2 separate regions of the Homo sapiens genome follow, and region 1 is linked to region 2. The links come from fine-mapping of genetic effects on gene expression. A gene starts in region 2. The other region holds a variant in brackets. All regions are shown on one strand. Distances are between the middles of the regions.

Evidence for each region. PIP is the estimated chance that this variant, and not a neighbour inherited with it, causes the effect.
Region 1: its variant is fine-mapped to the expression of SCN9A in lung (TOPMed, PIP above 0.99).

The regions. Positions count from the first base shown.
Region 1 is chr2:166,297,279-166,312,803 of GRCh38, reverse strand. It overlaps SCN9A (sodium voltage-gated channel alpha subunit 9), which reads left to right. Exons shown (of 27, transcript NM_001365536.1): 2 at 998-1,305; 3 at 5,730-5,848; 4 at 6,205-6,294; 5 at 6,884-7,012; 6 at 8,475-8,566; 7 at 9,502-9,714. The coding sequence starts at 1,048. SCN1A-AS1 (SCN1A and SCN9A antisense RNA 1) reads right to left here. Exons shown (of 12, transcript NR_110260.1): 11 at 13,963-14,114; 12 at 11,020-11,873. Among named protein-coding and RNA genes, the nearest start is that of SCN9A, 71 kb to the left of the region's middle. The variant A/G (reference allele first, on the strand shown) is at 9,285.
Region 2 is chr2:166,366,541-166,382,065 of GRCh38, reverse strand. SCN9A (sodium voltage-gated channel alpha subunit 9) reads left to right here and starts at 6,122. Exons shown (of 27, transcript NM_001365536.1): 1 at 6,122-6,369.

The sequences.
Region 1 (15,525 bases), 69 kb after region 2:
ATATCACTGCCTATTGACAATGTGCCTGGTCACTCAAGAGCTCTAACGGAGAGGTACAAGGGCATTAATGTTATTTTCATGCCTGCTAACGCTATCCATTCTGTAGCCTATGGGCCAAAGAGTAATTTCAACTTTTAAGTCTTATTTTTTAATAAATACATTTTATAAGACTATAGCTGCCATAGATAGTGATTCCTCTGATGGGTCTGGGAAAAGTAAATTGAAAATCTTCTGGAAAGGATTCACCATTCTAGATGTTATTAGAACATTAATGATTTGTGGGAGGAGGGCAATATACAAACATTAATAGGAAATTGGAATGAGTTGATTCCAACTCTCATGGATGACTATGAGAGGTTTAAGACTTCAGTGATGGAAAGAACTGCAGATGTGGTGGAAATAGCAAGAGAATTAGAATTAAGAGATGGAGCCTAAAATTGTGACTGAATTGCTGCCATCTCGCGGTAACTTGAATGGATGAGGAGTTGCTTCTGATTGATAAGCAAAGAAAGTGGTTTCGTGAGATGGAATCTTCTCCTGGTCAAGATGTTATGAACATTGTTGAAGTGACAGCAGAGGATTTAGAATATTACATAAGTTTAGTTGGTAAAACAGCATCAGGCTGGAGAGTGGTGCTACCAAAGGCATTATCATAAAGACTTTTAAAAGAGGAAAGTTGAGTTGAATTGCACCAAAGGTAAATATAGACGAAAAGAAGGGGAATTTAGGAAAATTTACTCAGAAAATTGTCATTTTTTACTTTAAAGCTATGAAGCGTAAACTTCAAATTTCTGAGTATAAAGATGGTTAGAAGGCACGAAAGATAAGTCCCGCCCATTGCCTGACACATAGTAATCCCTTAACAAGCTGATAATTCTAGAACATGTTACCTTTTGTAGTTGAAACTAAAAATCTGTTTATGTTGTTATTATTAGTTTTTAATGGGCCTTTCTTGGCAGGCAAATAGTTAAGTCTTTATTTCTTTGTTTCCATCCAGGCCTCTTATGTGAGGAGCTGAAGAGGAATTAAAATATACAGGATGAAAAGATGGCAATGTTGCCTCCCCCAGGACCTCAGAGCTTTGTCCATTTCACAAAACAGTCTCTTGCCCTCATTGAACAACGCATTGCTGAAAGAAAATCAAAGGAACCCAAAGAAGAAAAGAAAGATGATGATGAAGAAGCCCCAAAGCCAAGCAGTGACTTGGAAGCTGGCAAACAGCTGCCCTTCATCTATGGGGACATTCCTCCCGGCATGGTGTCAGAGCCCCTGGAGGACTTGGACCCCTACTATGCAGACAAAAAGGTGAGTTTATTTTGACTTCAGTGGTCAGTTTCTGTTGGCTTCCTTCTGTATAAAAATTATTTTAAATTGAGATTAGTGAAATTTAGTGAATAACCATATCATGACCAGAATGTTAAATTAAATATATATATATATATATATATATATATATATATATATATATATATAGGATATTCAGAATCTGTACTTTTTCAAATTTTTCATTGAAATTGGCTCTGGCATTGGCATACTACTTTTAATTTTTTTTTTTAATTATACTTTAAGTTTTAGGGTACATGTGCACATTGTGCAGGTTAGTTACATATGTATACATGTGCCATGCTGGTGCGCTGCACCCACTAACTGGTCATCTAGCATTAGGTATATCTCCCAATGCTATCCCTCCCCCCTCCCCCCACCCCACCACAGTCCCTAGAGTGTGATATTCCCCTTCCTGTGTCCATGTGATTTCATTGTTCAATTCCCACCTATGAGTGAGAATATGCGGTGTTTGGTTTTTTATTCTTGTGATAGTTTACTGAGAATGATGATTTCCAATTGCATCCATGTCCCTACAAAGGACGTGAACTCATCATTTTTTATGGCTGCATAGTATTCCATGGTGTATATGAGCCACATTTTCTTAATCCAGTCTATCATTGTTGGACATTTGGGTTGGTTCCAAGTGTTTGCTATTGTGAATAATGCCACAATAAACATATGTGTGCATGTGTCTTTATAGCAGCATGATTTATAGTCCTTTGGGTATATACCCAGTAATGGGATGGCTGGGTCAAATGGTATTTCTAGTTCTAGATCCCTGAGGAATCGCCACACTGACTTCCACAATGGTTGAACTAGTTTACCACCAACAGTGTAAAAGTGTTCCTATTTCTCCACATCCTCTCCAGCACCTGTTGTTTCCTGACTTTTTAATGATTGCCATTCTAACTGGTGTGAGATGGTATCTCATTGTGGTTTTGATTTGCATTTCTCTGATGGCCAGTGATGATGAGCATTTTTTCATGTGTTTTTTGGCTGCATAAATGTCTTCTTTTGAGAAGTGTCTGTTCATGTCCTTTGCCCACTTTTTGATGGGGTTGTTTGTTTTTTTCTTGTAAATTTGTTTGAGTTCATTGTAGATTCTGGATATTAGCCTTTTGTCAGATGAGTAGGTTGCGAAAATTGTCTCCCATTTTGTAGGTTGCATGTTCACTCTGATGGTAGTTTATTTTGCTGTGCAGAAGCTCTTTAGTTTAATTAGATCCCATTTGTCAATTTTGTCTTTTGTTGCCATTGCTTTTGGTGTTTTAGACATGAAGTCCTTGCCCATGCCTATGTCCTGAATGGTAATGCCTGGGTTTTCTTCTAGGGTTTTTATGGTTTTAGGTCTAATGTTTAAGTCTTTAATCCATCTTGAATTGATTTTTGTATAAGGTGTAAGGAAGGGATCCAGTTTCAGCTTTCTACATATGGCTAGCCAGTTTTCCCAGCACCATTTGTTAAATAGGGAATCCTTTCCCCATTGCTTGTTTTTCTCAGGTTTGTCAAAGATCAGATAGTTGTAGATATGTGGCGTTATTTCTGAGGGCTCTGTTCTGTTCCATTGATCTATATCTCTGTTTTGGTACCAGTACCATGCTGTTTGGGTTACTGTAGCCTTGTAGTGTAGTTTGAAGTCAGGTAGCGTGATGCCTCCAGCTTTGTTCTTTTGGCTTAGGATTGACTTGGCGATGCGGGCTCTTTTTTGGTTCCATATGAACTTTAAAGTAGTTTTTTCCAGTTCTGTGAAGAAAGTCATTGGTAGCTTGATGGGGATGGCATTGAATCTGTAAATTACCTTGGGCAGTATGGCCATTTTCACGATATTGATTCTTCCTACACATGAGCATGGAATGTTCTTCCATTTGTTTGTATCCTCTTTTATTTCCTTGAGCAGTGGTTTGTAGTTCTCCTCGAAGAGGTCCTTCACATCCCTTGTAAGTTGGATTCCTAGGTATTTTATTCTCTTTGAAGCAATTGTGAAATTTAGTATAATGTTTAGTATAACATAGTATACATTGTTTAGTATAATTGTTTAGCATAACATTTTTGGACATGACACAGTGATCTGCCAAATTTTATAATCATACCTATTTTTTCCTGCTAATAATTAACTCTCATGTGTATGCAGACCCAAAAATCACTTAAAAGTTTTTAATGAGAATGAAAATTGCTAATTTCAATTTTAAAATACCAACAATTCTTTTTATTAAAATTTCAAGTATAAGGTAACTTGATCTTGCCAATACTATGTAGTATGTTGTGATTTTTCATGTTAGCTCAGATGACCTCCGGTTTATAAAGTCTCCCTGATAATTTTGACAGTCATGTGACCCTGTTCCCTCTTCACTCTCATTCTTCCCCCTTTATATTTTTCTGTATGATATCTGTCACATCTTGCCTTATATTAGTTACTTTCTTCTTTTCATTTTTCTAGGAAGTTCCTTGAATACAAAACTCATGCCTTATTTTTGTTCAAACTCCTTTTCATTACCTGTTATGATATAGTTTCTGACTATACATGTATTAGTCTTTTTTTTTTTTTTTTTTTTGAGACAGAGTCTCCCTCTGTTGCCCAGGCTGGAGTGCCGTGGCGCGATTTTGGCTCACTGCAAGCTCCGCCTCCCGGGTTCACGCCATTCTCCCACCTCAGCCTCCAGGGTAGCTGGGACTACAGGTACCCGCCACCACACCTGGCTAATTTTGTTTTTGTATTTTTAGTAGAGACGGGGATTCACCGTGTTAGCCAGGATGGTCTCGATCTCCTGACGTTGTGTTCTGCCCACCTTGGCCTCCCAAAGTGCTGGGAACACAGGCGTGAGCCACCACGCCCGGCCGTATTAGTCCATTTTTACACTGCTATAAAGAACTACCTGAGACTGGGTAATTTATAAAGAAAAGAGATTTAATTTACTCACTGTTCTGAATGGCAGGGGAGGCCTCAGAAAACTTACAATCATGGTCGAAGGCAAAGGGGAAGCAAGGCACATCTTAACATGGTGCAGGAGAGGGAGAAAGAGGAGGGAAATGCCGCACTTTTAAACCCATCAGATCTCATGAGAACTCACTCACTCACTATCATGAGAACAGCACTGGGGAAACCGCTCCCATGATCCAATCACTTACCACCAGGTCCCTCCCCTGAGACGTGGGGATTACAATTCAAAATGAGATTTGGGCGGGGACACAGAGCCAAACCATGTCAATACAATTGCAGAAAGAATGGATGAATAATTTTTTAAAAATACAGTCTACTGAGATTTAAGACAAAAAGGATTGTACTTGAGGACTAGGTATTAATTTTAAAATAATTTTCCATGTAAAAGTGAATTTTACATTAAATTGTATTTAGATAGAACTGATACAGTGAAAGGGAGCAGGAAAATAAAAGGACACCTGAAAACAATAGACTCTGATTTGTTTTCTTGAGGGAACGCTGCCGCATACAAATAAAAAGCCTGACTCACAGACTTACCTCCTGAATACGGTGAGAAATGCTTATTGCCAGAAACCCACTGATAACCCTATATAAAATTTAGAAAGTCAGTGTCTTTCAGCTAACACAAGTCATCTTCCTGCCAACCGGAGAAAAATAAGGCTGGGATTTGAACTTTGTCTTTCTGATTTCTAAGCCAATGCTTTAGGTTGCTTTAATATTTTGTTGTTACTGCTGGTTGTTTTTATTTCTTAACTGAATACTAAAGCTATGGAAAAGGACACTTATGGAATGGCTACAATAACATTTCAAGAATGTTTGCTTCTATTCATATCGTTTTTTAAATTACCGTGGTTAGTAAGTGAGGAATCCTCTTAATTTAAGTCCCTTTTAAAAGCTAATATTAGTATTATAACTAAAATAAAGAAATTGAACTCAGTGATTGGAAGGATTCTTCCAACTCTGACGTTCCTTCAACTTAGGAAAATATTTTTTGAAATAACTCATATTTTGGAACATGTGCTGCTAACCATAACAATTGCCAGCAAGTATTAAAATTCTCAAGGTTTTATGATAAAAATATTAGAGATAGCTAGTTTCTATTTGGCTTTCTTAAAATGCAGTGTAATGGAAGGGAAAGAAGTTGTACTTTAAAATAACTTAACCACAGTTATTGTTACTGGTGAAAGAAAATGAAAAATATGAAATACAGTATTTTGAAAGCTCTAAGCAATACATGCTAACAAATAGCTCAATTTTTAAAGTTACTATGAAGAAGTGGACTTGGAGTTCATTGGCCAAGGTGACATTGATAGATGCGTTGATGACATTGGAACCACATTGCTGGAGTCTGATGGCAGTGTTTCTTCAATATAACACTGCCATGTAGAAAGGTAAACTGCTGATATTGATGTGAAAAATTGATATTTTGGATTCTCAATTTCATCCTTTCTTTTTCCTCCTGCAGACTTTCATAGTATTGAACAAAGGGAAAACAATCTTCCGTTTCAATGCCACACCTGCTTTATATATGCTTTCTCCTTTCAGTCCTCTAAGAAGAATATCTATTAAGATTTTAGTACACTCATATCCTTTTAAAAATGATTACATCCAGTGGCACTTTATGGTGTAATTTTTGCTATTTTATTCAAATATAGATGTTATACCTTTTGCACCTTGAAAGACTCTGGTTTTAGTTTATTAATTTCAGTATTATTAATATAATTTGTCATGGGTCTCAGAGAAGACTGGGAGAGTGGCAATATTAAGATTTTAGGATATGTTACTTTTATTTATTACTCTCTTGTTCAAAGAGACAAAATAGTCTACAAGCTCATTTAGAATTTTTTTCTTAGGAAAAGTTGTAAGCATTTCAACAAGTGTCATCCTCAAATATTTCAAATTCCCACTGTCGTCTCTTTTGTTCCTTGATTCTAAGCTACCTTATTCAGCATGCTCATCATGTGCACTATTCTGACAAACTGCATATTTATGACCATGAATAACCCACCGGACTGGACCAAAAATGTCGAGTAAGTGGGTATAAGTACATTTTAATATAGTTTTGGTATTATCATTTCATCCTTTCCTTTTCCTGCCAGGAAGTTACTGCATTTATGAAGATGGGGAATCTTTACCTTCCCATGTTATATGCTTGCTTTTCTTTTGTTCTTTACCTCCTCTATGATATTAACCTGCTAGATTAGAAAAATTAGATGCTACAGTGTTTTCTCAAAGAATGAACTTGTCAGATGCTCCATCCTGTTCTTAGACATGTTACACATATTTTATTCTTGGGTGTATGTTTTATAATTATATGGGTGTATTTTTAAATGATTGGGTGAATTTTTGATAGAAGCAATGTAGGAAATTTTTAGGCAGATCTGAGACCTATATTCTTAGTTATTTCAAGTACCTCTGCTTTCTGGGAGTGTTTCTGATATTGACATTTTAATATTTTCTGGATAGACCTATTGTAGTTTAATAGGGTGTGTCCATAACCCAACAGCCATCCTCCAATATATGTCTTCCAGTGGTTAATTAGAGAAAATAAGTTATAAAGATTTACATGGTGGTTGTATTCTTTTCACATCTAGTATCCCAATGGAATCTTGTGTTTAGGTACACTTTTACTGGAATATATACTTTTGAATCACTTGTAAAAATCCTTGCAAGAGGCTTCTGTGTAGGAGAATTCACTTTTCTTCGTGACCCGTGGAACTGGCTGGATTTTGTCGTCATTGTTTTTGCGTAAGTACTTTCAGCTTTTTGAAACGGCAAATTTATGAAAATCTCAGGCAGCACAGTGTTCCAATAACAGCAAACCTCTGGGGTCTGATTTTTCCAGCATGGAATGTCTGTATTTAAAGGAAAATGGAAGCTATATGAAAGCTAGTCATTGATAGGCAAATACTAAATTTTTCAAAAAGACTATCTCCCACTCAGAGGTATGTGACATCATTGAGATTGATCATCTTCCTCCATGCTCAGCACTTGGATGGATAGTCTATGCAGTGCCAATTAGGTTTACACTTTTTCCAAGTTCTTGTTTAAAAATGAATAAAACCTATAAGAAGCACACAAAAAACTCAGGCCTTTAAATACAAGTACAGTGCTCTTTATATTACCCTGTATTATTCAATTATTTTATATTTTTGTATTAAAATATAAAAGTATATATTTGTAAAAGAGCTGTCACTGCTTACTAAGCCTAAGATTAATGCATTGTATACACATTATATATACACTCAGTTTATTTTCAAGGAAAATATTACATTACAGTATAATTTTAATTTATTCATAATTGTTACTCTTTTCCCAAATGTATTTATCAGAAAAATGGATTTTTACAATCTCATATCTAGATATTCTATTTTCCGTTAATGACTTTGAATTATCAAAGTAATCCAGGTTCACTGGAGCCACCTAGACAATACAGAAGGGTCTTAAGATTCCTAATATCCGATTCCTTCATCCCTGCCTAACCTCTTTTCCATCAGGCTCCCTCCTTTTGAGGTCACATATGATGGGGCAGTTCCATCTGCTACCTGCTGCTAAGAAAACATTGTGCAAAGAAGACTGCCTCTTCTCATAGGTCTCCTTTTTTTCCTATTGGTACAATTCAAATACTACAAAATTCACAATTTTAAAGTATACAATTCAGTGTTTTTCAGTATATTGACAAACTTGCGCAACATCACCACTACCTAATTAGAGAAGTTTAACAACCCCAAATAGAAACTCTGTACTCATTAGCAGTCACTTCAATTTCCTTCTCTCCCTGGCCCCTTGGAAACCACTCATCTATGTTTTATCTCTATGGATTTGTCTATTTGGATTTTTTTATGAATGGAAATATCAAACAGTATGCAGCCTTTTGTGTCTGACACTTAGCATACTATTTTCAATGTTTTATAAAAAATTAAAAGTCTAAATTACCATAATGTTAAGGGTCCAACAATTGAAACATTTAGTTGTTTACGCATTTAAGTGTATGAATCCAATTTAATAATATATAATATCTGTATTTTGTTTGCATCAAATGAGTCAAATCAATGCTAATTAAATTAAGTTAGTTATGATAGCAAAAAAGACTTGCAGAACTATACATTTAAAATAGAAGCCCCAAACGTAGAAAATACCTTGACTAAAGGCTCAGGTAAGTATCATAGACTCTATCTAAATTCTGAATAATTCTGATTTAATTCTACAGGTATTTAACAGAATTTGTAAACCTAGGCAATGTTTCAGCTCTTCGAACTTTCAGAGTATTGAGAGCTTTGAAAACTATTTCTGTAATCCCAGGTAAGAAGTAATTGGTGTGAAGCATTAGGCCACTCATAACTCCAACTATTTGGGAGTTGTTCTTTGTTCGTTTGTGTGTGTGTCGTCACTGTGTGTATAAACTCCCCTATTACAGATATGTGACAGAGTTTGTGGACCTGGGCAATGTCTCAGCATTGAGAACATTCAGAGTTCTCCGAGCATTGAAAACAATTTCAGTCATTCCAGGTGAGAGTGGGGTTAAACACCAGGGCTGACTTTGATCTTTTGAAAGAAAGACATAAAAAAAACCTTTCTTTATGCAATTTTAATTAAATTTGATTTCTTCTGTTTTCCACAATCATTATCAAAAGTCAACCTTTGAGTTTAATCAATTGCATGGGTCTTTAGGATGAGGATGACTACTTGGCTCACATCTCAACTTGAAATCTTCCCTCCTGTCTGAGGGTTTGTTTTTCCATTTGCTTATACAGGAAGGAAAATTTCAATCCATTTTAATTGATTTTAAAATACTTAGGAAAGAGATCATAAATATCAGCATGGGGATATTGCATGACATTGTTTTTTATTTTTTCTCAGCAAACCATTTCTTTATTGAAAATTATTACAAGGTGTCACTATATGCTGTAATTTGTTTTGGTGCCATTTATAGAGAAGTGGTTTGTTTGACAAACATTAGAACTTACAAAAATTATTTTTAAAGTGGTTTGAATAGCCAAATTGTTCATTTTGACAACCT[A/G]GGTATTCTTTGAGAATATGTTCCTATTTTTAACCATTTGCTGTAATATATAAAAACAAAGTATATATAAAATAGCAAACCCAGAAGGCTTTTTTTGAATTAGGTTACTTAAGGTCATTGATTTGATATAATGCATGACTTTCTAGGAAAGCTTGTGTTTTTTGTTTCGATTCAGAGGCTTTATGTCATTACAAACACTTTTTTCTCCCATTTTCAGGCCTGAAGACAATTGTAGGGGCTTTGATCCAGTCAGTGAAGAAGCTTTCTGATGTCATGATCCTGACTGTGTTCTGTCTGAGTGTGTTTGCACTAATTGGACTACAGCTGTTCATGGGAAACCTGAAGCATAAATGTTTTCGAAATTCACTTGAAAATAATGAAACATTAGAAAGCATAATGAATACCCTAGAGAGTGAAGAAGACTTTAGAAGTAAGAATGTCCTTGCATTTGTTATTAGGTTGAAATAATGCTAAAAACATTGCTCTCTTTTAATAATGAAATGTTGCTTTCATTTTAATCATTTCAAAGCTATTCAAATATATAGAAAGCTGCTACAGTGTGAATTTGGGTCATGTTATATATGATTTTCATAAATCATCCTGGTTCTAAGCTATCTAGCAGTACTGGCAAAAGGAACACAGGATAGTTCCATAATTCCTAATTTCTATATCATAAAAAAGAATTATTTTCTCTAGAGAAATAAATGTAGCCTTGAATTAATAACATTAACCATTACATTTAACAATATAATAGATTATATATTTTATATAATTTTATTATATAGTACATACTTATATTTATTATATATAATGTGACATATTTATTATGATAGATTTTTATACTTAATAGATTGTACTCATAACTATAACATCTTAAAGTTCTATTAATCATATATAATGATAATATTAATTATCAAATATAAAGATAGTATCTGTATCTTGATAGTATTCCTAAAGATTTGTACAAAGCAAAATCATTTGCTCAGCTTTATCAACATCCACTTTGTAACCAATGACGAGTTTCATAGCTGTTTTTAATGGCTTCCTTCAATATAGGCTGATGGCAAGATATCAAAGTTTAGTTCAGTAGAATTATTTCTGTAGGTACCACATGAGATCATCTGTATGCACTCTCAGAAGTCTGCTTAATTCAGAAGTATCAATTAGAGTTTCTTACATAAAGCATGAATTGAATGTTCTCTAAACAATTATCCCCTAGCATGGTGTCTCTCACTGGAACGGTTGATGAATATTGGATGAAGATATGATCAAGATTGTACTTTCTGTCTGACACCTGGAATGTATCTATCTGATGGTGCCCACGTGAATACATAAATCTTAATAGATAATTTGACCCAGGTGTGGTATGGAAGTCACGAAACCTTTCAAATATATGTGCTGTTGCCAAAAGGAAATGAGGGAGGAAAGGTCAGGATTCTCCTTAGATAATAAAAAGTAATATACATCATTTTCTTATTTTACCAAATGTGTCCTTTCTCACTCACTGTGATAAATAAAATCAAATAACACCTAGCCCACATGGTAAAAGACTATAAATAAAATGACAGAAAAAAATAGAAGCCTTAACAAGAAAACTGAAAGTTTTGAAGTAAAATGTTTAGCATATATATTTTTACTACCACCATTTGATGAGGAATTTAGCATATTTTCCCCTTCTTTTTATATTTACCCTCTTTTCCAGTTTCTGATTGTTACAAACATGATTTGAAACTTATTTCCAATGGATGGAGAATTTTATTTCTTAATTTATATGCTGTAAAATTAATATATCTGATGAGTAACTTACATTTAATATTGTAGATTATTTTACCACACTTATTTAAACTTAAGTTTTCTCACTGGGATCTGTCCTTTTATTCTGAGTCTTGCTCCTATTTCTGAGTTTATACTGTGAATGGTTTTCTTAACCTTTGTTAAAAGAAAAATTTTCAACAAATTAAATTTAGCAGCTTATTTCAGCAATGAAATAGTATTTATTGCTGAAATAAGATAATAATAATAATGATTTAGGCAGCACTCAGAACCAAGAGAAGTTCGGAGAGCTCAACTCAGCAACATGAGCAGGAGTATTTATAGACAGAAAAAGGGAGTGACGCACAAAAACAGCTTGATTGCTTATAGCTTGACATTTGCCTTATGTGGACATTGTCTGATAAATCAGCAGGCTGTGGTTGGCTGAAGCTCAGCTGCTGTGATTGGCTGAGACAGCTACTTGTTACAAGAATATACTAATAGATTAGAATGCAATTTGTTTACATATGAAGTTAGATTGCAATTCTCTATGTACACAGACAGCCTTTAATCAAATTTAATTTAATTCATCGCTTTCTGGAATTGCTTCATGTATTTTTTTTTTTTTTTGCTAAAAAATAATACAAAAAAAGAAGAAAAAAAAAGAAACCCCGTCTCTACTAAAAATACAAAAAATTAGCCGGGCATGGTGGTGGGCGCCTGTAATTCCAGCTACTCAGGAGGCTGAGGCAGGAGAATCGCTTGAACTCGGGAGGCAGAGGTTGCGGTGAGCCGAGATCGTGCCATTGCACTCCAGCCTGGGCAACAAGAGCGAAACTGTCTCAAAAATAAATAAATTAATAAATTAATAATAATAATAGAGCCCTTGAGTTATGTGAATTATCTTTATATTATATTTAAACATGAATGCATGACAATTAGCTAATAATGAATCTTATACCACAATCCTGTCTTCCAAATCTGTACATTATTCTTTATTTTCTTCTGAAATGTAGTTTTAGTGAAGAGGTGTTTAAATCAAGTCTGAATTTTGCTTCTGTTTCCTATGTCATAGAAGCCATTTTTGACTGCATAATTGATTCAAACTTTCATTTATTGGTGCGTTTATTACATGGTTTCCCTGAGCTATAGCAATAAATGATAGCCTCAGCCCTTGCTTTCACAGAGCTTATCATCTAGTGGGAATGAAAAAAAATGTTTAAGGGGGAACAGACAAATAAATTAAAAATATCTCAAGTTATAATAAATGCCATGCAAAGGAAGTGAGTCTCAGGTGCTGAGATATCAACTAGATGAGAAGACATCTCTGAGGTGATGGCATTTAAGCTGAGATCTAAAAGATAGTAAGAAGCCATAAAATAGTTTAAGTGTGGGTGTGAGTCTATGTGTGGGGGGTGCTGCTTCAATTAGGAGAAATAGCATGGGCAAAGGTCCTGAATAAAGGGAGGGTATGGGTTTAAAGAATGGAAAAACAGCAGCGTGGTTTGGTAAGAGAAAGGAAGAATGGCAACAGAGAAAGTAGCAGAAAAAATAGGGGTCATATCATGCAGGACATTTCAGCCCATGGGAAGGAGTTTGTATTTTATTTTAAATGCAGTCATTTTTATTGCTGTCTGTCTTGTGCACAACTGATTGAGCAAGGGTAGATGGTAGATGGGAATAAGAAAGGTAAGTTGAAGGTTGCTTCTCTCATCTAGGCAAGAGAAAATAAAGGTTTCATCTAGAGTGATGGCAGAGAAATGAAGAGAAAAAAGATGAGCTCAACATACAAAGTCTGTAGAGCTTGCTGATGGATTAAAGAAGACAGGAAGCATTGAGGATGACTTCTCAGTTTCTGGCTGCAATAACTGGATGGGTGGTGATGGTTAATGAGGAAATGGTGGACACATTTGTAGAGGAAGGTCACTATTAGCTAGCTAAAATTAAAATGAGATGCCTTTGAGATGTCCAGGTGGATATATAATATAGAGAATTGGAGATTTAAGTATAGAAATCAGAGGGCCTGCTGAGTTTGGAGATAAATTCCAGAGCAATCAGCAAAAAGAAAGGACACACACACCTCTACCTCTGAACATCCCTGATATTTTTAAGTAGATAGAGAATGGGAAACCTGGTATTTAAAGCAATCTGGTACCAAGATCTACAACTCTGACATTTAGAATTCAGGTAGAAAAGAGGACCCAGAAAAGAACACAGAGAAAGAGCCGCCAATAAAGTAAGAAGCAAAGATATAAATAATGAAGCCAAGAGAAGAAAACATATTGTAGAAACAGATGTGCTTGTGTAGAATCATGCTGCAAGATCAAGGAGTAAGGATGATGAAGAAAGAAATATGCATTAGGTTAAGTAACAGGGAAGTCATCAGAGAATTTCTTGAGAAAATTTGGGTAAGTGGTAGGGTTCAAGGTAAGAATAAGGTGCATACAGGGGTGAAAAGAAGAGGTCAGAAAGAAGGTAATATGTGTAGACAATTCTCCCAAGAAATTTGGCTATAAAGGGAAGCAGAATAATGGGGCAAATGGCTGGCATTTAAAAAAATATATGGGTTTTTGTATGGATGTTTTGCTAGTGATAATGAATGAGTAGTTATATATGAATCAATTCAGGAGAGAGAGGGAGAAGTCAAGTCCTCGTGAAAGTGAAAGAGTAAAGGGGAGCGACAGCTCCACCGAAACAGGAGGAAAGATAGAAGAGAAGACTGCAGAGTTATCAAAAGATGATTGAGTTCAAACCCAATGGTTTTTATTTCCTCAAAGTATAAGATGGGATCATTGCCTGAGAGTGCAAATGAGGAAGAGAAAATTCTACAGATGATTTGATGAGAATGCATTATATATATGGTCATATCAGGGCATGAGAAATTTAGTGTATTTTGAGTGCAAATTTGATGTTGGAGATTACTTACTTAAAATATAACCATTCACTTGGTTGTGAGAGTTTCTCCACCAACATTCAGCCATTTGGTAGCCAGCATGGAAAAGACAGATGCCAGATTATGTGTAGACTGTGGTTCTGCCAGGTTAGGCACTGATGATAATGAATGCCCATGGATTTAAGCTGTACAAAGAGTGACAAGAACTTGGTTGATAGATCATGAGAAAGTGCTAAGGCAAATGAATTGGCAATATTTAAAAGATCAAGGAATTATAATGGTAAAGGCAATCTACACAGAGAACCTGAGCATAATCTAAAAGCATTTTCTGGTGCCTATAGCAAAGTATTTTCCGAAATGCCTTTCCAAATTCACAATCAAATAAATTAACCCACTGTCTCACCTCCTGCTGAAAAACATACAATTTGTAGATTTCCTTTGGTGTTGCTGTCTACTTTGATGCTCATCAAACACTTTTTTATGCTGCTACAGATGAAAGTGGGGTTCATGTGCACAGTGTGTAGCTAAATGTGCAGTATTATGGAGAAATATACTGTGGTTATATTGGGCTAAAACAGGATATTCTCTTCCTCCTGTTTTTCTAATATTTGACATTTAATAGAGAAAGTTTTGAAAAAACCGCAATATTGGCCTTCACTACTAACAGGAATTTTCCTATCTCCTTCATCTACAGCTGTTTTCTTGTGAGAACTACATTTGCCAGAGTGTAGAGTATCATGTGCAGGCCCTCTGCCCAGTCCTGATCCCCTGCACTAGTTTTCTCAGAGTTGCATTATTTGCCCTTCGTTGGGGATATACTCTTCACTTCCATAGGCCCAAGCCATACACAATTGTCATAAGTTGTCTTTCTGAGCAAGGGCAGAATTACCATTTTTTTTTCTATTTTGCTACATTAATCTTGAAAATTAATTTAAAAACTTCACCCAGAATCTTCATTAGATTTAATATCAATTCTGTATTTTTGTTATATCAATTTTCATTTTCCCCATACGTATTTTAGTGATAAGTTGGCATTTATTTACCCCCACCCACAACCTTTGCCGTTATGCTGCATTCCCTTTTAAAAATAGGTTTATTGAGGAATAATTTATATGCCACAAAATTCCTTTTTTTAAACTGTATAACTCATTTTTTAAACTATACTCAGAGTTGTGCAACGATCGCCACTATCTAATTTAAAATATTTTCATCTTTCCCACCAAGAAACCCAGGGCCCGTTAGTAGTCATTCCCCATTTCCCTTTTCTCCCAGCCCCTGGCAACCACTAATCTACTTTCTGTCCCTAGGGATTTACCCACTCTGTAGATTTAATATACATGGAAGCATATAATATATGGCTTTTTGTATCTGGCTTCTTACACCTAGCATAATGTTTTCAAAATTTATCCATGGTATAGTATGTATCTATGCTTCATTTCTTTTTATTGCTAAATGATATTTCATTGTATGTATATGCTATATTTTGTTTATACATTCATCAGTTGATGGACATTTGGGTTATTTCCGTCTTTTGGTTATAATGCATAATGTTGCTGTAAACATTCATGTACAAGTTTTTGTGGAAATACATTTTCA
Region 2 (15,525 bases):
ATGTCTTTTTTAAAATTAATTTTCTTTTCTTTTCTTTTTTCCTTTTTTTTGAAACAGCATCTCAGTCTGTCGCCCAAGCTGGAGTACAGTGACAAGATCAGAGCTCACTGCAGCCTTGACTTCCCAGGCTCAACTGATCTTCCCACCTCAGCCTCCCAAGTAGCTGGGACCACAGGTGCACACCACCGTCTCTGGCTAATTTTTTATTTATTTCTTTGAGAGATGGGGTTTCCCTATGTTGCCCCAGCAGGTCTTGAACTCCTGGACTCAAGCAATCTTCCTGCCTCAGCATCCGAAAGTACTGGGATTACAGGCATAAGCCACTGCACCTGGCCATATATATCTTTGAGGGAAGAAAAATTTCTGATCCTTGAGAATTAACTTAATAAATGTAATACATGTATGTTAAATGAATATATTGAAATATTTATTTAAAGTTACAAAAGATCACAGCTACCTATAAATTATTATAACTGTTTAACAAATGTTGCATTAATATTTTATTGTTTCAAATACTATTAATGACATATGTATTCATATAGGAAAATAAAAGTCTGGAACAATAGCAGTCAAGCTGTTAAAACAGGTTGTGAATTAACTTTGTTGTTATAGGGATCATTAGTTTCTATTTTGAATGTGTATATATATTCCTTAACTACTATTCCGAGTGTTGCCTTTACAATACATTGAATTTTCATTTCTGATATTGTATTTTCCATATGTAGAAGTTCCATTTTTGTGTGTTATATCTTATATTTCTCTCCTCATCATATTCAGATTTTTCTTTACTGTCTTAAGTATACATAGCCAACTTAATATTACAAAATTTAATGTCCTAATTTGTTAATTCCATTATCTTTGTCATTTCTGGGTCTGTTTTTGTTGATTGACTTTTCTGCGGGCTCTAGCTCATATTTTCCTTCTTCTTTGCATGCCTGCTCATTATTTTTGATTGGATGCCAGTCAATGTGAATTTTACGTTGTTAGGTCCTTTGAGACGTGTTGGATTTTACTCTGGCTAACATATAAGCAAACTGAAATCACCTGGGTCCTTTTAAGCCTCACTTTTAAGCTTTGTTAGGATAAATCCAGAGCAACGTTAGTTAAAGTTAATTCAGCCCCACTGCTAAGATAAGACCCTTCTGCAGAGTCTACCCAATATCTCCTGTGTTTTGAGGTCTTTTCACTTTGACTGGGGAGGATAAAATATTACTATCCCTGTGTGAGGTCCAAGAATTTTTAACCTGCTACTTAAGATTACAGTCATGTCAGTCATGTGCCAGATAACACTTCAGTCAAGGACAGACTGCATATATGATGGTGGTCCCACAGATTATAATACTGTATTTTTACTGTAACTTTTCTATGTTTAGGTATGATTAGACACAAAAATACCACTGTGTTACAATTGTCTCAGTACAGTAACATGTTGTACAGGTTTATAGCCTAGAAGCAATAGGCTATACCATAAAGACTAAGTATGTAGTAGACTATACCATCTAGGTTTGTGTAAGTACTGTCTCTATGATGTTAAAATTGCCTAGTGACACATTTCTCGGTACATATCTCCATTGTTAGGCAATGCATGACTGTAGTTCTTTCTCTGGCTTAGGGTATTTTTGTTTTCACACAATTGCAGAATGCTGTCAAGCAAAAACTTGAGGTCTCTTTCTACAGATCTCTGGTATACTCTCTGTTCAGCTCCCTTGTCTTAGGTGTCCTGTCCCAAATAAACAAATTCTAGCTCCCTCAGCCTATCAAACTCTTATTTTCTGGCTCTTCATGTTTCCATCTTCCTGAGCTGTGGTTTAGAAACTTTGTGTAGTATGCAGAGACAATCACAGCCTCACTTTCTTTCTCTTCTCTAGGGATCACTGTCTTATAGATAATGTTGCCCAATGACTGAAAACTAGTGTTTCATATATTTTGTCCCCTTATCTAATGGAAGACTTCTACAAGGGAATGTCGATAACAATAGTTTTGATCAAAAATAACTCCACAGAAAGCACATTATCAGCAAAACCATTGTTAGGGTAAGGGACCCATCAGTGGACTATGACACTGGGGAAAATTCTTCAGGAATAAGTAATCAATTAATATACTTACTAAGCATCTACTACATGCAAGACAAAACATTTATTTTTCTTCACATCAGTTTTCTGGCCAAAAAAATCCAGACCACGTCAAATTAGACGAGCAAACACTCAGATGCCAATACATTTAGGAAACCTCTTTTCTTCAGTTGTTTCATTAAGCATCATTTGCCCATCTCATCACTCCAATCTATGTCTGATAATCTTCATTGTATATTCTATTTCTTTTTAGTTATAATTTGAAGTTCTACTTTTGAATCCTACTTTTTAGCTATGTATACACAAAACTTGTAACTTTATTCTTCTATTTTCACAACAGAATAATTGTTTTTTCTTACTTTGTAATATTGCCGTGCAGCCAATATTAGAAGGTAAAAGTATTTTTCTAATCCTATTTAATTAGAGAAAAACAAACTCTTTCAGTATTGTATTAATTTTATTGCCTTAATATTACTGTCTATTTTTTGTTCTTCCAGAAACTTCTACAGTTTTGAAAATTGCAGTGGCAATTGTGGAAAATACAGAAGTGTGGATATCCATTTATTTCTCACTAAGGGAAATAAAATTCTTATTCCTATTCTGGTATGGATTGTATGATGTTAGTTAATTTCCATGACTCAACATTTCCACATTTTTCTATCTAAGTTACGGAAGGTCAGTTGTAAATATGATTAGGAACTTATTGGTTATTGGCTTTTTCAACCAGACAGGCTTTGTCTGGTTCCCTTAATTCAAGCCTACCCTTTAAATTTTAAACGTACCATCTACTTATGTCTACATCTGACGCTGTCATTTAGTGTTTAATGAACTCTCAAGGCTGTGCAGTGTAGTATTTAATAAGAAATTTGGAAAGATACTTTTTCTGGGTTTAAACCAAGATAAAATTTCTAGGGCTGCCAAAAGAGCAAGAAAAACACAAACAGCTAATGTTCTGTAGACTAGGAATGGCACATAAAAGAAATGGAAAGGAAATAAATAGTTGGAACATGAAAGAAAATTGGGAAAATAATGAATAATATACCTAATGCTTTGCCTATGAGCTCACAGGGAAAATCCTGCAAGGGATCCCTCAGTCAGACCAAGAGGATTTTATTTTTGGTTTTATCATTTTCCAGGATTTTATGTTTGAAGATCTCTAACAAGAACCTAGATATATTGAGAATAGTAAGTTCTTGTTAATGGATGCTTAAAGTGGAATATATAATATGTTATATATTATATACAACATATGTATTATACATAACATATATTATAACATAATATAGTAATATAATATATAACATGTTATAATATATAGGTTATATATAATGTATAATGCATTATATATTCCACTCTAAGAATGTATCTAACATATGTGTTATTCTAGATATAACAGCAAAGGCATAATCTATAAGAGACATAATTGCTAAGGTGAACTGCATTAAAATTAAAAACTTCTGCTCTGCAAAAACGGACAACAAGCCAGTGTTAGATAAATATTTGCAAAAGACACATCTGACAAATGACTGTTAACCAAAATATACAAATAAAGCTTAAAACTCAACAACAAGAAAAGAAATAACCCAATGAAAAAAATGGGCCATATACCTTAACAGACCAAAGAAGATGCACATATTGCAAATAAGCATATAAAAAGGTGATCCACATCATATATCACAGGGGAAATGCAAATCAAATAACACTTATGGTATCAACAATGGGCATGAGATACCACCACATATGTATTGGAATAACCAAAATCCAGAACACTGATGATATCAAGTTCTGGCCAAGGATGTGAGGCAACAGGAACTCTCATGTATTGCTGGTGGGAATGCAAAATGCTCCAGCCACTTTGAGGACAGTGTAGCAGTTTCTTTAAAAACTAAACATACTCTCACCATATGATCCAGCAATTGTGCTCCTTGATGTTCACCCAAAGGACTTGAAAACATGTCCACACAGTAACCTTCACAAAGATGTTTATAGAGGCTTTACGCATAATTGCTAAAACTTGGAAGCAAACAAGATGTCCTTCAGTAGGTGAATGAATAAACTATGGTACCACCAGTCAATGGAATATTATTCAGCACTGTAAAGAAATGAGCTATCAAGCTATGAAAAGCCATGGAGGAAAACTAAAAGCATATTGCTAAGTGAAAGGAGTCAATCTGAAAGGGCTATATTCTGTATTATTGCAACTATAGGATATCCTGGAGAAGGCAAAACTATAAAGACAGTAAAATGATCAGTACTTGCCAGGGGTTGAAATGGGAGATGAATAAGTGGAACACAGAGAATTCAGGAGAGAACTGAAATTACTCTGTAAGATACTGTAATGGTGGATACATGTCATTATATATTTGCCTAACCCCATAGAATGGACAACACCATGAGCTAACCCTAAATGTGAACTACAGACCTTGGGAGATAATGAAACCTCAAAGTAAGTTCATTAATTTTAACAAATGTTTCATTCTGGTGGGGAATGTTGATAATGGGGGAGGCTATTCTTGTGTGGGAGTAGCGGTTATGTGGGAAATCTCTGTACCCTCCCTTCAGTTTTGCTGTGAACCTAAAATTGCTCTAAAAATAAAATTTTAAAAATAAAAGAATGTGGCATTGCTTGCATCTAATAAAAAAGACCATTATTCCTATTGCAGTTGAACTCTTCTTCCTATATCTACCACCAATCAGGGAAGAGAAGGCGATTTGTCCAGGATATGGCACTGAGAATTATCACAAGTGAGCTAGTTCACCTTCATTGCACAGTCTCAGTCACTGAAGTTTCCTTCCTTCAATAGCACATCTTACAAGTCAAGAATGTAAGGTCCAAAGCCCCAGGACAAATCTCAGAAGCAAAGAAAGCAGCAGGGAAAAGTAGACCCTGGGATTTGATTTCCTTCCGGTTATCTCTAAGCATCATTTCCATGATAGAAGGTGTGGAAGCAAATAATAAAAGTGCCCGTCACTAGTGTTTATCCTGCAAAGTGGTCTGCCCTTTTGAGAGGCACCCTGCCCTATGGCCATCCTTTGATTTCTTCCCTTGGTGGAAATTTCCTGTTTCTCTTTGAGAAAGATAATTCAACCCTGTTTCCATTGTTCTTCCTCCCAGGCTGCTGTAGGAAAGCGCACGCACACACTCCACACAAAATGAATTTTTAAAAAATTTATTTTCACAGTCGCTCCTACCAGCTCTGAAATTCAGAACCCATATGACTGATGGCATATTCAGATAATCGGGTCCCAGGTCTGGAAAAGCAGCCTTTTCCCCACGTTTCTTTCCCCACCTAGGACCTCCTCTGATTCTTCACTGCATCTTCGAAAGAAAATGTATTATTTGCTTGCCTGGAAGACGCTGCAATTCAATTGATTTTATATATACATATATATAAAGAAAACAGAAAACATAGCCTAGATACCGGTCTTGAGCGTCACCGCCCCACTCGCGGTTGTGAGCAAAGCCCTACGGAAGAAACCAATTCCCAGCCTAGACTCTTCAGAGCCCAAGGTCGGGGAGGCGCTGGCCTGGCGGTGTTGTCTGGCTCCCCAGCCACTGCCCCAGACTCAGGGCTTTGCCATTGGTCCCCACCTCCTCTGCTCCGGAGTTTTTCTCCAGCTCCCCACCAAGCCACACAAAGTGACTTCTCGGAAACATTAGCCGATTCTGCTGAGCAGGAAGGGAGGAAAGGGATGATGGGGGCGGGGGTGAGATAAGGGAAGGGCTCTTCTGGCTGCTGGACACACACACACACACACTCAAACACACACACGCCCCACCCAATGGGTGGCCGTGGATGGCAGGTCGTGCAACCCCCTCCTCCGCCTTCTATTAGCGCATGGTGCAGAGGCTACAGCGTCGCCACCACCGCGCCCCTAGCTGGGTCCCCGCCCTGCGCCGCCCGCAGGAGTGGAGAGAGGGAGGGAGGGAGGGAGCAAGGGGTGGGGACCCGGGCGCGCTGGGAGGAGTGGAGGAGGCAAAGCGGCGCAGCTGCCCTCGGGGAGGCGGGGCTGCTACCTCCACGGGCGCGCCCTGGCAGGAGGGGCGCAGTCTGCTTGCAGGCGGTCGCCAGCGCTCCAGCGGCGGCTGTCGGCTTTCCAATTCCGCCAGCTCGGCTGAGGCTGGGCTAGCCTGGGTGCCAGTGGCTGCTAGCGGCAGGCGTCCCCTGAGCAACAGGAGCCCAGAGAAAAAGAAGCAGCCCTGAGAGAGCGCCGGGGAAGGAGAGGCCCGCGCCCTCTCCTGGAGCCAGATTCTGCAGGTGCACTGGGTGGGGATGATCGGCGGGCTAGGTTGCAAGTAAGTGCCTTTTCTTTTGCTGCTTCTGTGGGGAGGGGAGGAGAAGCCCTCGGTCTTTCGCCCGTGCTCGCCTCAACCGCCACACCCACCTGTGTCTATTTTCACATCTCGGTTCTGGAACCCTGTATTACGCCACCTGGAAAGAAGAGAGGGGAGAAGCTTGACCGGGTGGTTCCAGCAATGGGAGGAAGAAGGGCTGGAAGCGTAGTTATTTCGATAGCTGGGCAGCTCCTGTGCGGTTTTGACTCTGTGGGTTTGCTGCCAGGTTCTGAAACTGTGGAAAGGAAGGGTAGCAATGCCTGGTGGTTTACTGTCTTTTATTTCTGTTTACGCTAGCAGAGTTGTTAGATGGACTTCAATTCAAGGGGCAGCTCACATTTTTTACGAGCAAAAAGCATGTGCTGTATTTCCCATCTGCAAAGCTGAGCGTGCAGAACCAGCTTAGCAGATACAACCTGTGGGGACAGAAAAGAACCCCGCACCCCTTAAGAGCACACAAACACAAATAATTGACAGGACAGCTCTGCCCCTATTTCTCAGCGCAGATTATTTATTTATTTTTTCGAATAAGCACTTTATAGTGAAATTCAGAAAAGATGCAGAATCCTTTTAACTTTTTATCGAATTCAACTTGGGAAACTCATTTACTTTTAGGAAAAAATGGATATTTTCGTGCCTTATATTCAAGACAAAAATCAGAACAAGAAACTAGAAACATTAATGCCAGTTTTTGTGATTATAGTAAACATTTCACTCATTATTTTAGTTTTTTTTTTTTAAGTTGGAGCGTTCATAGATTATATCTACTCTGATGTTAAGAGCAATTTACATGAGAAACTTAGGGGGGTTTTTAAGAAGCTAGTGTCAGTAAGATAAAAGCCAAATCAAAGTAAGCTTTCAAGGAAGTGATAGCTTGTCAGTTACTGAATAGGAAGTCAGTGTTGGGAAGTTCAGTTCTTTTCAGAAACATATTTATTATTCTTTTCTATTTCTTCTTCCCTGTAGACAAGATAAAGATTTTCTTTCTCTTTCTTTCCTTGTTATTTAAATATATTTTATAATTTTTGCTTTAACATCAATATAAACCTATTTTATATAAACTGCAAACCAAATCCAATTATTAAACTGTTCATTTTATTGCAAATTCTTCAGATTTTTTCCACTATTTAAAAAAGTTTATAATTTTTTCTTATAATTATGGTGAGATTTTTTAAAAATTATTGATTAGTTTGAAAGCTAGTCTTATCTGATCCCTGTGTCGCAAATTTTCATGATTGTTAGACTAGCTTATCAACAACAAAACTCTAGACAGAATATGGTATTTGATGTAAAGAAGAATGTGCCCTCTATTTAGGCAACTGATAGTTTGGCTTAAGACAAGTTTTTTAAAATTTTGTAGAGGTTTAAAAGGAGGTTTCCTTAAGTAAGCCACTGTGCAGTTGTGGGACTCAGTGATGTGTTTTTACAGTGACTGGATATATGATATGCCTTGATTCCTATGGTGCAGGGCTAGGCTCACAGAGTACCTGATGCTTCTACAGAAGAAAGATGAGTCAGGTCTGGCTCTCTGCCAAAAGCATCTTGGGCCTCCTTTCCCCTAGGGCCTGCATATAATCATGGGAGCCCTTCTGTGGTAATGCTTCTATGTTTTTACTACCTGTTGCTGTGCTGAGTTTCAGAAGCAAAATAGATAAACAAATAAATAAATTCAGAAGAGCAATCAGTAGGGTTCTATTTATTTAATATAATCAACCCACTTTCTCTGTGGCAAGGAAAAAAGTAGAATTTTTCATTTTACATGAATAATAAAATCTATTTTTTATCCAATTTCTATTCCTATTAGTTATGCAAAAGAGTGTGAAGTGCTAGAAGGATTTATATGGTACTTTTCTAAGACAAGTCATGATCTTGTAAAAGAGCTTAAAGTTTATTGATGTAAATGGAACATTCTAGATGTCATAATGATAATAATTTATGACTTTCCCTAAAACTCTGTCTCAGATTCTTTCCTCCCATCTTCATTATCTGAATAAATGCCTTCACCATCCAAGTATTGAAATCACCTTTGATTGCTCTCTTCCTTATTACTCCATTTCAGCCCTTTCCAGCCTGTAAGTAGATCTATCAATCTTATCTCCCAAACTTATTTCTATTTCATCATACGTCTCAGATGCCTCTCATTCACCCTCTTTTCTGTATCTACACGGCCACCAAATTAGTTCAGGTCATCATCATAATTTACTTGGAATCCTGCCACAGCCTCCATATCAATCTCTCCACTTCTGTAATTTTCTCCCCTGCAATTCATTCTCTATACAAAGCAATACCATCCTGTCTCCCCTAACAAACATTGGCTCACAACTGCATTTAAAAAAAAAAAAAAAGAGGAAGAAGAAGAGGAGAAGAAGAAATAAACATGGCAACACAGAGACCAATTAGCAACAACAGTAAATGCCTTTCCTCAGCATATGGTTTACTCTCTGTTCTGTCCCTTCTCTCCAACCTCACCAGAACCTATTCTCTTCTCATTAAGGTGCTCCTGCCCAGGTCGTGGCTAAAACACATGAAACAATAGCACTCTTTAAGGCCTTTTCAAATGCTGTTCCCAATGCCTGAACTCTATGCGTGCTTACTCCTTCTTAAACTTTAAATCTCAACTCGAGGTTTTTTTGTTTTGGAAAGATCATTTTTGATCATCTTGTTAAAAGTAGGTTGTCCCGTGTTGGTCTTGATGTTGGAACCTTGTTTCTTTCATACTGCTTGTTACAGCATGCAGGTATTTTGTGAATTTGCATACCAAATACTCCAAGGGAACCCAGACTATGTCTTCATTGTTGACTTAGCTTCCAGAATAGTGCCTGGCATCAAGTAGTAGGGGGTTCGTAGATATTTATATAAATAATAAAATACAAAAATATGGATTCTTCCAGAATAAAGCATATTAACCCTGGAAACATGAATTTTGTGATTCTATTTTTTATTTGTCAAGCATTTAGTATTTTTACAATATCATGGTATGATATTGAGGAGGTAAAATTAAAATATCCTGAGATGTATTCTCTCTTTTATCAGTGTAGGTGATAATGTACTTAAAGGTAAGTAATTTGTAATGCATTCTTAGAAAGGCAGTGACCACAAATGTATTAAAATATATTTTAAGAAAAAATTGGATTGCATAAACTAATATGGTTATAAGTGACTCCAAATCTAAAATGATAACCTTGTTAGGTTTAAATCTGTATCATCTAACAGAAATTTGAGGGCCAGTCAATAGTCACTGACTATGAATTTAAAATATTCTTTTAAAATAAACATAGATGCTTATGTGAGCTCAGTTGATAGAAATGTAGTCAGATGAGGCGGAGGCCATAAGTTAGGTTTCCACACGGTCTAAATTGATGTTTGCCCCAGGTACAAAGGGCACATTATCCAAATATTTGAAGCATTCTCTAAGGAAGGTTCAGAGAGGCAATGTGGGCTTATCCATGAAGACCCATCACTGTTATTAGAGTGGAAGTAAGGACTGCAAACTTCATGCTCATAAATGATTGTGTCATTTTCATACTAGAATTTTACCACACACACACTCACACTCACACACACACACACACACACTTTGTATGGTGATTTGCCTCCCCCCTTTATTTTTGCAGACTATGCTTAAAGATATTAAACAAACAACTAGTTTTGCTATTAACATTTGGTTGAAAATTTAGCTTTCAATTAGGTGACAAACTGATTAATGATTTTTTTATGTAGCAAATGGCCAGCCACAGATTTTTGGTAAATAATTTGGTTACCACATTACATCTTGAAGGACTAAATTATTTCACTAATTGTGAGCAGGGATTTTTAAAAATTTGCTCTGAAGAGGACATATTGTGGATGTTGTATTGGAGGGCATCTGTGTACTAATTGAAGATGGTCCTTCATATTACACATCACAAATTAGCTAATTTATTCTTTACAGAAGTATTATGACATCTTCCTTTAGAACTGTGTAGAGTTAGATTACCACTTGAGAGGCAAGGTCATATTAAAATAGATATTATAAAATTGTATAAAAATATTTTATATGAGGATTTATGAGAGCATCCAGAGAATGTGGGTAGAATACTTTTGTGGAATATGAGATAACAATTTTGGTGTCCTGCCATTCTAAAAAATGAAATTTCTTCATTGAAGGTATCACTTACCCTTTCCTCTGCCTTGCTGGAAGGAAATGGCTTTAGGCAAAAGAAAAAGCCATCAGCTCTTGGCAGCTAAAGGTGGAATGAAGTTTGGAGGAATGAAACCCTTCTGGGTGGTGAGGAAAAATGCCAGGCCATGATAAAGTGGGGAAGGAAGAGGGGAATGCCTTGAACAGTGCCAGTAAGCATAATCTGCCACAGACAAGTTTGAATTGACATATGTAGAACTGAATTATTCTATATCTTTTTAGTTCTATAGAGAAAACCGTTCTTTCCACGTCTCTTTTTAAAATAACAACTTACTGTAAGCAAAAAATATGTTGTTGTTGTTTCTTTAACACAGGAGATGAACTATCTTTAGATTTTTTAAAGTGATATAACATGGAGCCAAAAATGCCATATATTACTGTTGAAACCTAACGTTACTTTAACTGTAATTTCCTTGCTATTCATTTTATGATTTCCTCTTGTTATGTCAAGTGTTAGAGAGACTGCTATTACTGATCATAAATTTCTTTAAAATGTCTCCTTGGATTTTTTACAAAGCTTTCTGAATCATTTATCAAAATACAATAAAGCTCTAATTGCACCTAGGATTGTTCACTTGGAAATTTAGAAAGAGTGTGTACATTTACAATTAAGTTAGCATCCTGCCCTGCAATGAATGCCCTTTTTCTTTTTTTTTTTCCTTCTTCTCTCCTACATCTCATCTTCCAAATGTTTGATATGTACGCCAGTAAGGCAAATTTTACTCCACTTTTAGGTCAAACTATTAGTACAAATAATTGGAAAATTGAGCCTCTAAAGAAAGATAAATAAGATTAGAAGCATGCATTAAAATATAAGTATTAAAAACATTCCCATAAGATTTTTAATAAAAATTTTATGTGCTATATGCACACCTAGACTCCCTGTATTATCTGATTTTTAAAGATTCTTTTTTTTTTTTATTTTTTATTTTTTTGAGACGGAGTCTCGCTCTGTCGCCCAGGCTGGAGTGCAGTGGCGCGATCTTGGCTCACTGCAAGCTCCGCGTCCTGGGTTCACACCATTCTCCTGCCTCAGCCTCCGAGTAGCTGGGACTACAGGCGCCTACCACCGTGCCCGGCTAATGTTTTTGTATTTTTAGTAGAGACGGAGTTTCACCATGTTAGCCAGGATGGTCTCAATCTCCTGACCTAGTGATCCGCCCGCCTCGACCTCCCAAAGTGCTGGGATTACAAGCATGAGCCACCGCGCTCAGCCCATTATCTAATGATGATGATGATGATTATTATTATTATTATTATTATTATTATTATTATTATTATTATTTTAACTGGGGGTAATTTCACTGGATGTGGTATCTGTCAACTTTTACTAGTTGCTCCTACACTATATGTTTTTAAATCCAATGTAATTATTTTAAAAATATGTCATCTTCTTGAGAGTCTATACTTTAGAATTTGAAAAAAGAAGTAAATGTAGATATTCAAATCCATGCAGATGAGTAAAACAGGGAAAAATGAGAAAAATGTTTCATGATAATAAAATATTATGTCAGGCACAGCTGGTCACCCCTGCAATCCCATCACTTTGGGAGGCCGAGGCTGGAGGATTGCTTGATCCAGGAGTTCTAGATCAGCCTGGGCAATAAAAGGAAAATCTGTTTCTACAAAAAAATTAAAATTTATATTTCATATATTGATTTAAGCTCTACTAAATGACTATTCTTTCAAGTCTAATAGACAGTGTATCTTTTAGGGCTCAGAGTAAAGATAATTTATTGAGGACATTTTGAATAGGATGAATTAAATGCTTTATTGGTAAGTGATGCCTTTATCTGAGTGATTCCTTCTAGGTAAATATTATGGGACCAATCTTTGTAAATGATCTTTGCATGGAACAAAATATTATAAAGTTGAAGTGATGAATTTGTTTCCCTCTTAACAAAATATGTATTCTTGTTACCCCATTTACAAACTTGGCTCATGGTAATTCAGGTAGGAAAAAGGGAAGTGGCCTACTCAGGGATCAACTGGGAATAAGGTTCTTATAATCCCATGAGATCAGCTGACAGACTTTTAGGAATGAACACTTGTAGAACAGCTAGGCAGAGAAGTGCCTTTCAAAATTTATATTACATCTCTACTATATTTCAGACTGTAAAATATTTTTATAAAGTGTTAAAAGCACAGATAAATAAATTTGAGTTCAAATTAGTATAGTGAAAGGAAGTTTATTTTTCCCAAATATTTCCTTTACTCAGTATGTGGTCTTAGTCAAATATTAATTTCTTAAATATTGCTTTCCTGTAAATTAGTAGTATTTACTTCTAAGGACTATATTATATGTTATATATAGAGTATATTATATATTAGGAGATATATATGTATATACATCGTAATTTGTTTTTTCCAAAACAGCCACTTTAGTGTCTTACACATGATAAGTAGATATGAGTAGATGTTCAATAATGGTATCTAGGCATTTAATAACTTAGAATATTATAATCAAAATGCATTCTTTTTTTTTTTTTTGAGACCGAGTTTCACTCTTGTTGCCCAGGCTGGAGTGCAATGGTACGATCTTGGCTCACTGCAACTTCCGCCTCCCAGGTTCAAGCAATTCTCCTGCCTCAGCCTCCCGAGTAGCCGGGATTACAGGCATGAGCCACCTCGCCTGGCTAATTTTGTATTTTTAGTAGAGATAGGATTTCACCAGGTTGGGCAGGCTGGTCTTGAACTCCTGAGTTCAGGTGATCTGCCCGCCTAGGCCCCCCAAAGTGCTGGGATTATAGGCGTGAGCCACCATGCCCAGCCTCTTTTTTTTTTTTTTTTTAATTAAGTTTCAAGGTACATTTGCAGGATGTGCAGGTTTTTTACATAGGTAAAGGTGTGCCGGTTTCACTCTGTTGCCCAGGCTGGAGTGCAGTGGTACGATGTTGGCTCGCTGCAACCTCTGCCTCCCAGATTCAAGTGATTCTCCTGCCTCAGCCTCCCAAGTAGCTGGGATTACAGGCATGTACCACCATGCCCGGCTAATTTTGCAGTTTTAGTAGAGATGGGGTTTCACCATGTTGGCCAGACTAGTCTCGAATTCCTGACCTCAGGTGATCTGCCCACCTCGGCCTTCTAAAGTGTTGGGATTACAGGTGTAAGCCACTGTGCAAGGCCAGCAATTATGCTGTTACAAGGAAAAATACATACGGAAAAGTTTACATCTTGCTAACATTACTGATAATATTAATGTAACAGTCTTATGTATGGACGTCTCCTTAATGCTAACTGAGCAGTTTGTTAAGGGATTTTCATATGCTCCGTTTAAATCCTCATGACCACCATTTGAGGTGAGAACACTAAGGCTCAGAAATTACCTAACCTTTCCAAAGACTCACAATGGTTACTAAACTTGAATAACATACACATTTCTTTTATAGGAAAGAAATCTTATATATTCCAAGAATACGTTTGCACATACCCCACACAGATATACCTGGTGGTTACGCTACCAAGCATTCTATCAAATATGTTTAACCCTTAATGGAGCTAAAATAAAATTACATTTGCAATCAAACATACTAAATCATGTAATTACAGCTAATAGAAAACAACAAAAAAAGAAAGATGGATGACTGTTTCAATTTTCTTCTTGGACACCAATTCCTGAGGGGTATATTGTGTTAAGTCAAAATAGAGATTTTGGTGGAAGTTTGAAGACATTATGAAAAGAGTACCTATGCATTTAAAGTGTTTTTGAAGTTGTTTTATAGGTTGAATGACTTCACTTTCCTGGTCTAGGAGTATTATTGCACTACTGTGACTTGACTTTGCTATGATTCGCATATTTTGTTTTAACATTAAAAAACTGAAATGGGAAAAAGGCCTTCCCCAAGGTAGAAAAGATTTGAAAAAAGAGGAATGGTGTAATTAAAAGGGAAATATGTATAAAATGTCTAGGGTGGGCCAGGCGCGGTGGCTTACGCCCGTAATCCAGCACTTTGGAAGGCTGAGGCAGGCTGATCACTTGAGGTCAGGAGTTGGAGACCAGCCTGGTCAACATAGTGAAACCCCATCTCTACTAAAAAAAATACAAAAACTATCCAGGCATGGTGGCCAGCACCTGTAGTCCCAGCTTCTCGGGAGGCTGAGGCAGGAGAATTGCCTGAACCTGGGAGATGGAGGTTGCAGTGAGCTGAGATCGAGCCACTGCACTCCTGCCTGGGCAACAGAGCGAGACTCAGTCTCAAGAAAAAAAATTAAAAAAATGTCTAGGATGAAGTTTATTCTGAAATGGAGAAGAAACAGGGAATGAAGTTACACACGTTGAGATCCTGGAGCTAGCAGATGGAGAAGTATGAAAAGCAAAGTGATCTTGTGCAGGATAAGATGATGGTGTTCATTGGAAGTATTTATATATCTTGGAAAATAAAAATTTAGATATTCTATATTGGAGGAGTACAAATATTTAGAGCATCACAAATTGATACACACAAATGAAACCTAAATCACAGTACTTATTGTCATGAAGACTCAATTATCTAAGTCAGTTAAATTGTCTAACATCAGTAATGCAAGAAGTTGACTTTTAAGGGTTTTAAAACAGTTTTGGAAAACTAATTTATTTTACATTATGTTTATAATAATTTTTGCATGCAATTTTTTTAAATATCTATTATCCACTTAGATACTGTACTTTGGGATATAAAAACCATGGGAAATTTGGCCCTTGAGTTCTATGATACGTCTCAATCTATTTTAGTGATTTGTGGATTGGTAGCTTATCCTCTAGACTAAGTGGTTAAGGTTTTATCAGCACTGCAATGAGATAATCATCTCACACCTGTTAAGATGGCTGTTATAAAAAAGTGAAAGGTGTTGTTGAGAATGTGAAGAAAATGAAAGCATTGTCCACTGTTGGTGGGAATGTATAATAGTGTAGCTGCTATGGAAAATAATATGGAAGTTCCTCAAAAAATTAAAAATAG